4 linked regions of the Homo sapiens genome follow. The protein of the gene in region 3 purifies or fractionates together with the protein of the main gene of each other region. This does not show direct contact. Each region holds a gene or a part of one and is shown on either strand. Other genes may lie near its edges.

Region 1 (4,115 bases), on a different chromosome or scaffold from region 3:
TGCTATAGAGTACAGTAAAAGCTTCTACTGTAACCTGCAGCATCTCCAGCAGTCTGAAACATAAGCCCACTGAACAAAGATAGTAATTCACGTTTAATACTTGTTTTCAAAAAACAATGACCACCAGTTTCCACAATGGAAAAGACCAACATCTACCATCTAAGTTTTTCCTGGCAGATCATTCAACCAAGCACTTCACTGAAAGTAAGACTTCTCAGGTATCAAAAGAACAATTTATCTACCTTTACCTACAGGAACTACTGATGCCTATTTCCTATGGTGTCTTGATAAACTGTCTAAAACTGCTTCACCAATTGTTTGCTAAGTATTGTATTTAAAACAAGCATTTAAATAAAATGGCTTCTTTGATTTATTAAATAAAAAAACAACAAGAATCATTTACCTTCTATCTCCACCAATGGTTCTTGGGTAAACTCCTGAAAGAATTTGTAGAAGAACTTACTACAAGCAGCCAAAACAGCCTTGTGAGCCTTAAAATGGTGTCCTAGGTAAAATAAGAAAAAAAAAGAAAATCATACACAAGCACGAAAATCAAATGTATAACTACAAAATAGACTTAAAAATCATATAAAGCAAAATAGGTCTTCCTTCATTACGTAACTACAGAAATTATTGAACTAAATGCAGAATATTCTTGGCAGCTATCTTGGCAAATGTTAATCTCAATTAGATATAAAGCTAAATCTTCACTTCAAACCCCTTTAGTTTTATAAAGCCTAATTTACAACACTAGGTAAGGAGCCTCTTGACACTCTGTTGTTTCCAATTAAGTAGTGAGAAGCATATCCAACTCAGTTGAAACTGCTAAATAAAAGGACAACCCAAAAGGTCACATATCATTTGGAAAGAGAGAAAAAAACCGTAAGCACAAAGCTGGATATGTCTGCTATGAAAAACATTTTAATATGCCTAATATTTGGAAGCTCCATCTATGGTAGACCCATAATTTTAAAAACAGGTTACCTTGAGAAACCTATTTTCGCTAAACAGAAAACATACCCACGCTGGATTTCCTTCCATTATAGAGGCAACTCCTAAGGCTGGTAAAGACCCCATTTTATTTTGGAGATTCTCAAAGGGGGTATGAGTGCTGCAATGGAATCTCTCATTCTCCCTTCAAGACCATTTGGGAAACTAGAAAAAAAATCAACACTTCCCAAATGACTCCTGTAAGGGACTTCTCAAAGCTTACCAACAAGAGGCTATCAACCAAACATTTTGAGACAATCTGTCCCCAACGACATCATCTTGCACTCAACAGGATGTAAGAAGTTAAAATGAGATGAACACCAGACTACGTGGAAGGCATGACTGACCAACCAGCCTTCTGCAGCACGCTGTGTGAGTGGACACTGACAAGTGCAATCTGGTCCCAGTGCACACACTCTGCAGACTTTGGTAGGGAGACCATAGAGGATGGGTTAAAAAAAAAAAAAAAAAAAAAAAGGCGGGTGTCCGAAGGACAGAAAAAAACTGAAGCCAAAAATTCGCTCCTCTGCCCACTGCCCTACCCACCGTCGACAATTAGGGTGATGTCAGTAAACCGGTCCTGCTCTCGCTGTTCATTCAATCGGTCGAGGATCATTTTATGATGTTCAGGGAACTCCTGAAGGCATTCCATCGTCTCTTCAGCCTCCATGGCCGTCGGGCTGCTCTACAAAAGAAGAGCATGATAATGTACACCCATGAGCTCGAGCCGAGGAACAAAACCCCTAAAGCATAAAACAACAACAAAAAAAACCAGCAACGTGAAAAGAAGGGGGGAGGGTGAAGCAAGAGGAGAGAAAGGCGAGGGAAGAAAGGCGAGCCGAGCGGCCCCGGAGCGTTGAGACCGGAGCCGCGGCCGCGGGACTCCGAGCCTGACCTAATTGGAGTCGGGAGACGCGAGCTAGAGCGGGGTGGGCACAGCGCCGGAGGTTCCGAGCGCCAGGGCGCGCAAGTCCAACAAGGGAGGGGACTCGACAGCCGTGGCGGTCCTCTAACGGCCCGCCAAGCCCTTCTGCCCGGCCGGGGCTCCCACCGCCCCGGGACCCGGTCCGGCCCGCGACCCACAACGACTCTCGGGTCGCCTCTCCCTCCCCCGCCCTCCCTCTTCTCCCCCGCCCCGACCGGGCCGGCACTCACTGAGGGAAGGAGGAGCGGCCCAGGCTTGCGCGTCACTTACGTCGACGCACACCGTCACCGCGTCGAGCTCCGGCTGACGCGGACGCCTTCCGGGCGCCGACCAGCAAGGGAACGGGCCACGCCCCTACCCACACCCCTCAGTGGATGGGCGGGGCCGAGCGCGGGGATTTGGCGCTCACGAAGGGCGAGGGCTTGCTCTCTGAGAAGAAACCGGGCAGCGGTGGGCTTGGGCTACTGCAGAGCCTGGCAGGGCCAGAAGCTGGGAACCTAAGTCATTGCCCTTCAACCTCTCACCCTCCCCAGCTTGACTCCAGGGGCGGACACTTCCCGACCCGAGCCCGGAATGAACTCGCCAACCGTCCTCACAGCCCAGCTACTGCGCGGCCCCTCCCGCCCCGTCCTGCCCCGCCCCCTTCCTTCCGAGACCTGGGTTGGCCCGCCTTACCTAGCTCGTGGGTCGCCCTCCTTCCTCTCCGTCCCTCAGAGCCTCTTGTTCCGTGCTTTCCCCTCCCAGGGCATAATGCGCCCCACGCCTTTCCTGACCCCTAACCCGTGGGTCGCCCTCCATTTTCTTCGTGAGAGCCGGGGCTCCCCTTCTGCTCGGGCCCCGCTGGCGCACGTGCGTTCGGTTGGGCACCCGGGCGGCCGCGGCCCCGGCAGCGGCAGCTACGGGCGCGAGCACGTTCGGGCCGCCCGGAATCTTCCTCCGCGAAGCGCGCCCTCCCCGCGCCCTGCCGCAGCACGTGCTTGCTGGGCTCAGGACCTGGAGCTGCTCAGAATTATTTACACCGGATCCCGTTAGTGCAGGCCTTCCCCACTCCTTTAAAGAGTCCAGGCCGGCGCGGTGGCTCATGCCTGTAATCCCAACACTTTGAGAGGCCTGGGCGGGTGGAGCACATGAGGTCAGGAGTTCGAAACCAGCCTGGGCAACATGGCGAAACCCCGTCTCTACTAAAAATACAAAAATTAGCCGGGAATGGTGGTGGGCGCCTGTAATCCCAGCTATTCGGGAGGCTGAGGCAGGAGAATAGCTTGAAGCGGGGAGGTGGAGGTTGTAGTGAGCTGAGGTAGTGCCACTGCATTCCAGCCTGGGCGACAGAGCGAGACAACGTCTCAAAAAAAAAAAAAAGTCCAGTGACCCACAGTCAGCTGCATGTGACTGCTTCCTTAATTCCTCCAAAGAAATATTATATATAAATACATTTTGAGGATAATTCTATAATTGAGATTTACTTATTTTTTTCTCTCAAAGAACTTGAGAATTGGGATTACGGAGGAACTCAAATAGCTATATGGTAATAATGTCATCATAACTTCAACAGATATGTATTGAGAATCCTAGTACTAGACACTGAGAAGTCCAGCTGTGAACAAGGTATATGTGGTTTCTGCCTTTCTGAATCTTAAGTCTAGTAGACTGCATAGATATTTTGAACAGTAATTGCCTAGGTGCTTGCTGATGAGTTTTGCAACACCTGAAGAACGAAGTAACTGGGTGTCAAGGAAAGCCAGTTGACCTGTAAGAAGAGATGTGGGCGGGCGCGGTGGCTCACGCTTGTAATCCCAGCACTTTGGGAGGCCGAGTTGGGGAGGAGGAGTTCAGCCCAGGAGTTTGAGGCCAGCCTGGGCACATAGCGAGACCCCATCTGTATTAAAACAAAAAATGTTTTTAAGTGATGTGAAGTCTAAGTGTTCTTAGCCAAAAGTATAGCACATGCAAAGGCACCAAGATTATAGCATTCAGGAAACTGAAACAATGTTGCTGGATAGACGCACAAGGGTGCCTTATAAAAAGTGTTGAAGATGTCAGATTTTCTTTTTGCAAGGGGAAGCCTTGCCGCATGGTGACATCCTAAGATGTACTTTTTAAAGAGATAATTCTAGCCCCAATATGGAGAACAGATTAAATGGGACAAGCTGCTAGGAATAGAGATCAACTGGGAGACTGTTAGTAATGTAGATGAAACCAT
Region 2 (3,500 bases), on a different chromosome or scaffold from region 3:
AATTATAAAAAAAGAAAGCACCTCTCACTTTGATTTCTGGTTCCTTATTTTTCTAGAACCTTCAGTATTGTGGCATTAGCATAATCTTTCCAGCCTAATCAATCCTTCTTTCCTTTCCCTCACATTTAATTGAATACCTGTCATGTTCCAGGATATGGTAGGGATCCAGAGTCCTTAAGACCCAGCTGTCACCCTCAGGTTCCTCAGGGAACCTAGAAAGGAAGACAGTTACATAAATAGGTCGCCTTTGCATAATCAAAGTCCTCTGTAGTCTCTCACTGGCTGTGAGATGAGAGTTCAACAAATTGGGTTTTCCAACTTTCTATCCCTCTCTTTACACTTTACATAGCTGAACATGCACATTCCAATCATGCCCTTTCTTGCTGCCACCATTCTTCCAGCTTGGAATGTCATACCTTTTCGTCTCCAAGTGTGGGTCCCATGCACTCATTAACTTAAAAAAAAATTACTTATTGTGCTAAGCTGTGGGAATATGGAAGTAAGAGCTACCTCTTCTTGTAAAGGACCTATTTAAGCAGGAATTTCAAAGTCCTTTCTCTTCGTCCTCTGAACTCATTGTCAGTACCATGTGTAGTATTTGCTACTGGAGCCAATAGCTGACTTGTGATGTTGGATGTGTGTCCTCTTTTTCAAGCTGTGTGGAAGGCTCCTCAAGGGCAGAGACCAGAGCCTCACACAGTGCTTACACATCAGGCATGCTGTAACATGCTGGGTGATGGTGATATGCATTCCGGAATGGGTGTGGGAGGGACTGGGATTCAGTTTCTTCCATACTCTGCAATCCTTGCTATTTCAGATTTCCTCAAGGTGGTACTCTATTATATTTGAACAATTTAACTGAAAGTGTTTCTAGAGTGGCATTAGAATTCATTGACTCAACATTTCCAAAACCTACAAGTTATAGAGGATGAAACCAGCTGATAATGGAAATTAAATGTCATAAAAGAGAAAATTTTATTAACAAAATTAAGATAAAAAGTGAAATATGTTATTTATAGAAACTTGCATCTGTTAATGTAAGACTAGAGGAAAGGTTTTTCTACCCCCCCAAATATTCTTCCTAGAAAATTAGTTCGCCCTGATTATAAAATTGCAGACAAAGAAGAGTATGATATAGAGAGTGAAAGCCCTGATATGCTCCTGCCATCCAGAGGTGACCATTAAGAGTTTGGTGAATATTCCTTCTGTTTTTTTCCCTAGGTACACAGTAAAGTCATACAGATCTTTGAAAGATATGTAGTCAGACTTATTGAGTAAAAGGGGTTGGGCATGGTGGCTCACACCTGTAATCCCAGCACTTTGGAAGGCCATGGCAAGGAGATTACTTGAGTCCAGGAGTTCAAGACCAGCCTGGGCAACATAGGGAGACCCCATCTCTACAAAAAATAAAAAATTGGCTGGACATGGTGATGTGCACCTGTAATCCCAGCTACTCAGGAGGCTGAGGTGGGAGGATCACTTGAGCCCAGGAGGTAGAGACTGTGGTGAGGTGTGATTGTGCCACTGCACTGCATGCAGCCTGGGTGACAGAGCTGGAATGCAGTGGCGTGATCGAAAAAATAACAATTTTTAAAAGGGGCACTGATTTTAAGCTATAACCCCTATATTTTAAATACATAGGCTGGATTTTATCTTGCTCATACAGACTTTTAAAATGATACCCTGTGTTTAGCCCTGAAAAGTGCTTACTTCTTCTTTGTCTGATGGGTCTTAAAATTTTCTATCCTTGCAGCTTACCCTGTGTTACCACTCCACTAAAGAAAACAAAGTATTCTTTTTTACAATAAAAGGTTATTTTTATATGAAACTTTGAATTTCACATTTATCAACTCATTTGATTTTCAAAACTGGTTTTGTTGGAGGTGCAGGTCAGAAGAGGAGTGGAAACCAACCTGCCCTAATCCTATTGCACCCATTTTCCCATCAGCTCACTAAAGAGTCGTGTGGAAAGTTGGTAGCTTTATCCTCAGAGGCCCTCCTGGATCCTCTCTGGACCTTTCCCAGGTGATACCATTTCAGGAAAATGGGTTTCTTTTCAAAGACAGAATGTCTTTAGGACAGAAAGGGGTTGTTTGCCTTCTAGGTATGTGCATGAGGGGTTCATTTCTTAGCTTGATTTTCTTTCCAGTGATTCATGATGTGACCTTCTAACAAGTTCCTTTTCTTAAGTCTAAAAAGTGTGGACCTGGTACCCCTTTACTGAGTAAAGAGAAACTAAGGCATGCGGTTTGGAAACTAATGGTAATTTCAGCATTGAGACCTTGGTGGGACTTTGGAGCTCACAATCAGACCAGTGTTTGACAGTTAAGCTTGTGTATACTTACTCCAGCTCTCTCTGGACTGGTCTTGTATGGGTCCAAGTCGTTGTAAGTTCAGGAAGGTAATTAGATCCCTTTGATGGGGGTAAAGAGTGGGATCTTTACCCCCGATCTGATACTGGGGAGATTCCAGGCATCTGACTCTATAAACTCAAAAAGAAAGACCTGATTGGTAAACTATAATCTCAGTTTGTTAATTTGTACTTAACCTTTATGTGCCTCTGAAAAATGGAGGAAGTAGTAGCACCAATTTCACAGGGTTATTATGAAGATTAAAATGACATTATCAGTAAGTTGAGTAAATTTTGAGTGCTTGGTGGTGGCAGTGGTGAGAAGTGATTGGATCTGAATATATTTTGAAGGTAGAGCTGATGGGATTTGCTGATGGATTGGTTGGATGTGGAGTTTGAGAGAAAGAGGAGTCAAAGATGACTCTAAGGTTTTTGGCCTGAGCATCTGGAAGGATGGTTCTGTCATTTACTGTGATGTGGAGATGTAGGGGGAGGAGGAGGATTAAGGGATGGAATCAAGAGTTTGGTTTCAGATGTGTTTAGTTTGAGATACTGAATAGACATGCAAGTGGGGATATTGGGTAGGCATTTGGAAAAGGTCCAAGCTAAAGGTAAGGATTTGGGGATCATTAGTATAAATGGTATTTAAAGTCATGGAATTAGGTAAGATCACAAAGGAGTGATTATAGATAGAAAAGAGAAGTGTTTGTCATAGTAAGTGCTCAGTAAATGTTGGCAGTTACTCCCATTACTATAACTACTTGAATTATTATTGCTGATACTTTATAGGAAATGTTACAGAACTACTGGGTGAACCATAATCTCTCATTTTCTTTGTATGAAACCTCTTTGGGGAATCAAAGCTATATTAGAAATTTCCATAGAGAATATGCTGTCAAGATCCAGGGAGTTAGATGATCCTGGTGAGTAGTGCTCCTTGAAGTCATTCACCCGTGAGAGCTGGATGGCTTCAGGTGTTGGGATTTGATAGGCCTGGGTTTGAGTCCTGGCTTTACTCTGCACCAGCAGCGAAACCTCTTTGAACCTCAGTGTCTTCCTCTATGAAAGAAGGCTTACTTTGCAGGGATGTTAGGCAGATTCAAGGAGATGAATGTGAATGCCTTCCTTTCCCCTCCACTGTTAAGGACTA
Region 3 (3,974 bases):
TGGGCGTGGTGGTGTGTGCCTGTAGTCCCAGCTACTTGGGAGGCTGAGGCACGAGAATCGCTTGAACTCTGGAAGCCGAAGTTGCAGTAAGCCAAGATCGCACAGCTGCACTCCAGCTTGGGTGAAAGAGCAAGGCCCTACCTAAAAAATAAAAAAATAAAATAAACAGATAAACAACTATTTCTTAATATATGCCCCATTATTATTCCTTATCTGAAATTGAATTTAACTGAGATCCTGTAATTTTATTTGTTAAATGTAGTAACTAAATAGAGTCTTCCTATTTACTAACTAAAAATAAACACTGGGTGGCTCTTGCCTGTTTGTACTTGAGAGGGTTAGGCGGGAGGATCGCACGAGCCCTGGAGTTCGAGGGGGCAGTGAGCTATGATCAGGCCACTGCACTCCAGCTTGGGCGTCAAAGTGACAACCTGTCTCTAATAAAAAATAACAAACAGCCTTCCGCAGTTTGTCAGTACTATTTCTTTCTGCCAATTAATAGTTGTGTGACCCTGAGCAGGTAATATCTCGGGACTCTGCATCTGTAAAGCGATGGATAAAGAGACCTACCTCATAAGAACTATGAGGCTTAAATAAGATAGTGTGTGTAGCGTTTCTCGCATAGTCTGCGCTCACTAAACGGAGTTATTGTATATCGTTCGTTGTTAACTACCACAAAGGCTCTGCTCAGAGGTGCGTAGGCGCTGGCTCAGCCTGGGGTGAACCCACCAGGCCACCGAAACGAGCGATCAGGGTCGGCAAAGCTGTGGAGATGAAATGGGCAACACCTTCCACACTGCGAGTAAAGCTCGCAATCCGGGTGGAGGCCTCCACGTCCTAGCGCAGTCCAGTCCCGGGCGCAGGGAGGAGAGCTGGTCAGCCAAGATTCCAAGACAGGTGTCCACCTCCTCCAACGAAGCGGAACACGTGACACCACCCTATCCACTTCCGGCTTGGAGGGCATGCCCTCCCGTCACCAGCATGCACTTTCGACAAAACCGTGGAATCTAGTATTTTCCTCTGACACCTTTATATTTTCTTCACTTCCCTATAATTCTGACCTATCGTGTAGGTAAAAATTAATCTTCAGAGTATTACAGACATGCGTGCCCACGCGCTAGGCGAAAGTGCGAGTCGGAAGCACTTCATTCCCTCTCTTCGCTAGCCGGAAGTCGCGAGATCTGAATGAGTCAAAGCCGGCGGCCTCGGCTCCTCAGCTCCACCTGACAGTAGGCCGCTGATCGGCCGCGGGTCTTGTCGACCGCTAGGCCACCAGGTTCATGTGGAGGCTCCCAGGCGCCCGCGCCGCGCTTCGGGTGATCCGGACGGCGGTGGAGAAGCTGAGCCGGGCTGAAGCGGGGAGCCAGACAGCGGCGGGAGCGATGGAGCGCGCTGTAGTGCGCTGCGTACCTTCGGAACCCAAGCTGAGCCTGTCATTCGCTTTGGCTGATGGTAGCCACAAGAACATGCAGCGCGACCAGAGCGAGCCGCTGGGTCGAGTCCTCAGCCGCATCGCTACCAATGCCCTAAAGGGTCACGCTAAGGCGGCCGCCGCCAAGAAGAGCAGGAAGAGCCGGCCGAATGCTAGCGGCGGTGCGGCCTGTTCAGGGCCGGGGCCTGAGCCGGCTGTGTTCTGCGAGCCCGTGGTGAAGCTGTACTACCGGGAAGAGGCAGTGGCTGAGGACGTGCTCAACGTGGATGCCTGGCAAGACGGCGCGGTGCTGCAGATCGGCGATGTTAAGTACAAGGTGGAGCGCAACCCGCCCGCCTTCACCGAACTGCAGTTGCCGCGCTACATCATGGCCGGGTTCCCTGTGTGCCCCAAACTCAGCCTCGAATTTGGGGATCCCGCCAGCTCCCTTTTCCGCTGGTATAAGGAAGCCAAGCCCGGAGCGGCGGAGCCCGAGGTCGGTGTCCCCTCGTCATTGTCTCCCTCCTCACCTTCTTCTTCTTGGACTGAGACTGATGTGGAGGAGCGTGTCTACACCCCGTCCAATGCCGACATCGGGCTAAGGCTCAAGCTTCACTGCACCCCAGGCGATGGGCAGCGCTTTGGGCACAGCCGGGAGTTGGAAAGTGTGTGTGTGGTAGAGGCTGGGCCTGGCACCTGCACTTTTGACCACCGGCATCTCTACACGAAGAAGGTGACTGAGGACGCTCTCATCCGCACTGTCTCTTACAACATCCTGGCAGACACGTACGCGCAGACTGAGTTCTCGCGAACGGTTCTGTACCCATACTGTGCCCCCTACGCCCTGGAGCTCGACTACCGCCAGAACCTTATCCAGAAGGAACTCACCGGCTACAACGCCGATGTCATCTGTTTGCAGGAGGTTGACCGCGCAGTGTTTTCTGACAGCTTGGTACCCGCCCTAGAGGCCTTCGGGCTCGAGGGGGTGTTTCGAATCAAGCAGCACGAAGGCCTGGCCACTTTCTACCGAAAGTCTAAGTTCAGCCTTCTTAGCCAGCATGACATTTCATTCTACGAAGCCCTCGAGTCCGACCCACTTCACAAAGAACTGCTGGAGAAACTAGTTTTGTACCCATCAGCGCAGGAGAAGGTGCTCCAGAGATCTTCTGTTCTTCAGGTAAAGTAGTTCCGCCCGTCTCTTCACATACTGTCCCACTTTTAGGGGCCAGGAAGGCGAGGAATGAGGTGGGGGTTAAAAGTGCGATGAAAGTATCCAGATATTGTTGAAAGGTGTGTTTGCCCTTGTATCTTCAGCACAAAGTTTACTCTTCATTCATTCAGCAGATATTTTTTGAACACCTCTGGTGTGCCTGCCATACTGCAGGTTGCCTTGAACAAGACTAGCAGGGACTTTTACAGTGCTTACAATCTAGCGAGAGGGACACACGCTAAATGCAAGAACAATAGTAGCTAATGTTTTTTACTACTTGCCAAGCACTGTTCTGGCACATTTTAAAGTACTTAAAATTTAAGAGCGTGGTGTGTTTTGAAGTGCTCCATAAATATAAACTAGTTTTTTTTAAATCATAGGCTCATTGAATCTTCACAGTAAGTCCCCTATTCCCATTTTATAGATGTCATTCTTGTGTTAAAGTTTTTAAGTAATTGATTTTGTTCATAATAAGAAGAGCAGCTACCATTTTTTAAGTACCTAAGGTGTTTCATGCACCTTATAAGATCATTTAATTGACTCCACACAACAGCCCATGAGGTGGATGGTATTGTCAGTGACTGCCAGTACGAAACTGGCTAGAAAAGCATCTTTTTGCAGGTCACATTGCTATAAATGGTGAAATGAGTATTCAAACCCAGGTCTGCCTGACTCCAAAGCCTGTGCTTACGCTTGAAAACACTTTCTCCAGTCAAAGTGTTGTCATGTAAAATGTATTGTTTATATTACTAGCTTTATATATTGGACTATTATTATTATTATTATTATTTTGAGACGGAGTCTCTGTCACCTAGGCTGGAGTACGGTGGCGCGATATCGGCTCACCGCAACTTCCGCCTCCCGGGTTCAAGCGATTCTCCTGCCTCAGCCTCCCTAGTAGCTGGGACTAGAGGCGCGTGCCACCACGCCCGGCTAATTTTTTTAGTAGAGACGGGGTTTGGGGTTTCACCATGTTAGCCAGGATGGTCTCGATCTCCTGACCTCGTGATCCGCCCGCCTCAGCCTCCCAAAGTGCTGGGATTACAGGCGTGAGCCACCACGCCCGGCCTATATTGGACTATTATTAAAACATGTTACACTGAACCTAGTCATGTAGATCCTGAAACTTTAAGTTGGATTTCATGACTGCAGTCCTAGTTCATCAAGGGAAGGAGATGGAAGAAAACGTTAGTTCGCCATTAGTCTTAGATAAAAAACAGGCCGGGCCTGGTGGCTTATGCCTGTAATCCCAGCACTTTGGGAGGCCGAGGCGGGTGGATCACAAGTCAGGAAATCGAGACCATCCTGGCTAACACGATGAAACCCCGTCTCTACTACAAATACAAAAAAATT
Region 4 (3,500 bases), on a different chromosome or scaffold from region 3:
AAAGACACTGCTGAAATCGGAAGAGACTGAGATTGTTAGCTAACACATTCAAATGGCCCTTTTCCTTAGCCTCCCCCCATCCCTTAATAGCCAAAGATATGGGTAAATAAAAATGAAATCCATTTGAGAAAACGTTTTCTTTGCATATCTGAGTATTTATTATGTTTTCGATCCAGCTACCACACACTAAAATCATATTAGTTTTTCGGGGGTAGGAGTAAAGATCACATTGTTGAATTATAAAGAGCTTACTGTTAAGAATCCTATCTTTTTAAAATATAAATTTGCAAATAATCAACTGTTTCTACCCAAGCTGCTTTTTCTCTATCAGTGATTGGTTCTCAACTTTGAATGTGCATTGAAACCACTTGGAGGGCTTGTTTAAAACACAAATGTCTAACCCTACCCCCAGAGTTTCTAATTCAGGAGGTCTAAGGTACCGCCAGAGAATCTGCACTTTCTAACGAGTACCCAGGTGATGCTAGTGTTTCCATCTGTAGACAACATTTGGAAAACTAGTGCTCTAAGTCCTGCTTTAGTGGAGAGACATTATTCTGATTTCACTCTCAAAGGCATACAGTTGGCATTAATTCATACAGCACATATAAAGAATTAACCTCCCCCCAAACTTATTAGAACTTGATTTCCACACATTATCAATAACGGAATACCATTTTCACCCACCTAGAATGAAAAAACTTTAAGCTTGATAAAATCCGGTGTCACAAAGGATATGAGGAAACAGGCACTCTCATACCTTGTTGTTGAGTTTATGAATGGCTACACTGTTTCTGGATGGCAATTCTTGGCAGTAACTACCAATATTTTTAAAGCATAAATCCTTTAGTCCAGGAAATTCTTTCTAGGAACACCATAAAAATAAATAAGTGAATAAATGAATGATGTTCATAGCAACGTTTATGAGCTGTAAGTAACCTAAGTTTCTCTTAATATGATAAATATTAAAATATATCCAGTCATAAAAGTGAAAAGCATCTTCTGATTATTTCCACAAGTTAACCACTGAATAACTGTCTACAGTATGTTCTGTAGTAGAAAAAAGATACTCTGTAACAGAATCTCATTTGTGGGTGTTCTAGTGTGGTACTCAATTGCTGAAACTTAAATGACAAGATGAAAATCCATTAACAGGCTAGCATACTACTTAGTTGCACTTTATCAAATCGATTTTAGTGATTGTTTTCCTTCAATCTTTAGAGATTTCATAAAGCTCTACCAAACTCCTTGACTTGCTCATGTAGAATTAAATGAGAGGGAAATTGGCTTTGAGCCTAAATTCATAATCTTTTACTTTTTCACAATTTCTCCAGTGAATTGTATGTCTTTCATGATCCCACCTATACTTTAAGAAAACTTTTTGACTCACAAGTAGATGCAAACATACATGAGTGAGGTCCCATGTACCAATCACCAACTGCTTTAATGAGGACACCTTATATGCTGGTAGTGCATTACCAGTTGGTTCAGGGAATCCCACATACAATTTTAATGGCCACCCTTAATTTAGTTAGAGCCTCAAGATATTTAATGAAAAGTTTGAACAAACATGGAAAAACATGGAAAGAAGAGGGTGGAGAATGATCACCTCAGTTAAAAAAATGTGGCATAAAAAGAATGTTATTTCTGGAGACAGAAAACATGCACTCTAGTTACAGTACTGCTACTAACTGTTAAAGCTTTATCTTGTGTGAGTTAATTCATATTTGGAATTCAGATTTATAATTCGTAAATGAGTTTGAGGAACGAAGCCACAAAGGTCTTTTCTAATGCCACAATTATTACAAGTAGACAGTTTTACTATCAGAAACCCATTTTCTGATCATATTTAAAATCTTAGTGTCAAGATAAAAGTGTGCATTAGTACAACCTTCTTAAAAAGCAGCTTGGCAAAAACAAAAACATCAAATTTAAATTGTGCACACTTTTTGCCCCAGTAATTCCTTATCTATAAATTTAAAGAAACATGCAAATGGGCAATTATACATTTTCAAGGATCTCACAGCAATATTTTTGTAGTTGTGAAAAATAAGGCACTGATTAATCAGTGCCTCATTTGCCATTAAAATGGTAAAAAGTGCAATTACTTATGCACTGACCTAATATGTTTATGCAACGTGATACTATGCAACTATTAAAGTATGGCTATTGAAAGGCATTCATAATACATTGTTGAATGAAAAAAAACCATGGAATATTTAGTACCTCAGATCTTTATGTATAGTATACATACATATATCTATTTGTATAAGTATATATTGTATTGGGATGAGTAATACTTAAATGTTCAGATATTTAAAGAATATTCTCTATTTCTATATCTCTATATACAGAGATTAAAGGTCTGAAAGATGTATGCAACAGTGGTGTTTACCTCCAGGAAGTATAGGCTGTGGGTATAGTATAGGCTGGGATGGGGAGAGAACTATCATTTTTCTTTAAATTATAAAACTAAATGACCATTTTAAAAAAAGGTTCAAAGTGAAATAAGCTATATATTTTTTAAAATTGTAAATATCTGAATAATTAAGCACCAGTAATCTCAATAGCACTTACTTAAAAGTTCATTTTCTCACTAACTTGAGATGCTGCCTTTACTGTATTCTAAATGCCACTGAGTCTATTTCTGGAATTCCTCTTCTGTTCCATTGGACTTCCTATTTATGTGCCAATACAAAACTTTTCATTTATTCAACATTACGAATGCCTTCCAATATCCATACTTTAACAGTTGCATAGTATTGAGTTACATAAATGTATCATAATGTGTCTTATTTTTCACAATTACAAAAATGTGGCTGTGAGATCCTTGAAAATGTATCATTGCCTATTTGCATGTTTCTTTATGCTAAATCTATAGATAGAGAGTATCTGGGCCAAAAAGTGTGCACACTTTAAAAAATTCTGATAGCTTCTGCCATGGAGGATTTAGAGTATGTTTTAGTGTCGGATATGGCTGGTCCCCTCTAATTCTTTTCAGTTTCCATGGTTATTCTAGTATGTTCTCTCAAATAACAATATAATTTTTATTGGAATGGCACTGAATTTATAAATGAACCTAAGTGGGGAAAGACATGTTTTGATGTTGTCTATCTAAGAATATCATGTATCTTTCCATTTGGTGGAATCTACATTTTTGCCTCTCAAGAGTTTTTTTAGTTTTCCTCATACAGATTTTAGATGTGTCTTAAATTTACACATTAAGTTTTCTTTTTACTTTTGCTATCACAAAGGTGGTCTTCTCTTCAAGTATCTTCTAACTAGTTTAGGTTTGCATATACATACATATATATATATATATATATATATATAGTCTTGTTACTCTTTTTAGTAAACATTTTTACTGAGCTATAATTATACATACAGAAAAGTGCACAAATCATATACAGCTTGATAAATATTCATAAGGTGAATGCACCTACGTAACCAGCACCTAGATCATGAAACAGAACATTACCAGCACCGCAGAGTCTCCCTTGTAC

What was found. Proteins that work in one complex are often made in the same cells at the same time.
Region 1: the proteins of PDE12 (region 3) and ZNF131 purify together in Homo sapiens (affinity purification with mass spectrometry; one large-scale study listed by BioGRID and IntAct). This does not show direct contact.
Region 2: the proteins of PDE12 (region 3) and ENOPH1 fractionate together in Homo sapiens (co-fractionation; one large-scale study listed by BioGRID). This does not show direct contact.
Region 4: the proteins of PDE12 (region 3) and PGGT1B fractionate together in Homo sapiens (co-fractionation; one large-scale study listed by BioGRID). This does not show direct contact.

The regions. Positions count from the first base shown.
Region 1 is NC_000005.10:43,119,599-43,123,713, reverse strand, and holds the start of ZNF131 (zinc finger protein 131), read right to left. Parts: upstream 2,801-4,115; 5' UTR 2,591-2,800; exon of another isoform or gene 1,676-2,590; 5' UTR 1,661-1,675; coding exon 1,537-1,660; intron 506-1,536; coding exon 404-505; intron 1-403. UniProt on the Homo sapiens protein: Plays a role during development and organogenesis as well as in the function of the adult central nervous system. May be involved in transcriptional regulation as a repressor of ESR1/ER-alpha signaling.
Region 2 is NC_000004.12:82,437,090-82,440,589, forward strand, and holds part of ENOPH1 (enolase-phosphatase E1), read left to right. Parts: intron 1-3,500. UniProt on the Homo sapiens protein: Bifunctional enzyme that catalyzes the enolization of 2,3-diketo-5-methylthiopentyl-1-phosphate (DK-MTP-1-P) into the intermediate 2-hydroxy-3-keto-5-methylthiopentenyl-1-phosphate (HK-MTPenyl-1-P), which is then dephosphorylated to form the acireductone 1,2-dihydroxy-3-keto-5-methylthiopentene (DHK-MTPene).
Region 3 is NC_000003.12:57,555,100-57,559,073, forward strand, and holds the start of PDE12 (2',5'-phosphodiesterase 12 isoform 1 precursor), read left to right. Parts: upstream 1-1,174; 5' UTR 1,175-1,280; coding exon 1,281-2,588; intron 2,589-3,974. UniProt on the Homo sapiens protein: Enzyme that cleaves 2',5'-phosphodiester bond linking adenosines of the 5'-triphosphorylated oligoadenylates, triphosphorylated oligoadenylates referred as 2-5A modulates the 2-5A system. Degrades triphosphorylated 2-5A to produce AMP and ATP.
Region 4 is NC_000005.10:115,203,878-115,207,377, forward strand, and holds the end of PGGT1B (geranylgeranyl transferase type-1 subunit beta), read right to left. Parts: 3' UTR 863-3,500; coding exon of another isoform or gene 752-862; 3' UTR 135-751; downstream 1-134. UniProt on the Homo sapiens protein: Catalyzes the transfer of a geranyl-geranyl moiety from geranyl-geranyl pyrophosphate to a cysteine at the fourth position from the C-terminus of proteins having the C-terminal sequence Cys-aliphatic-aliphatic-X.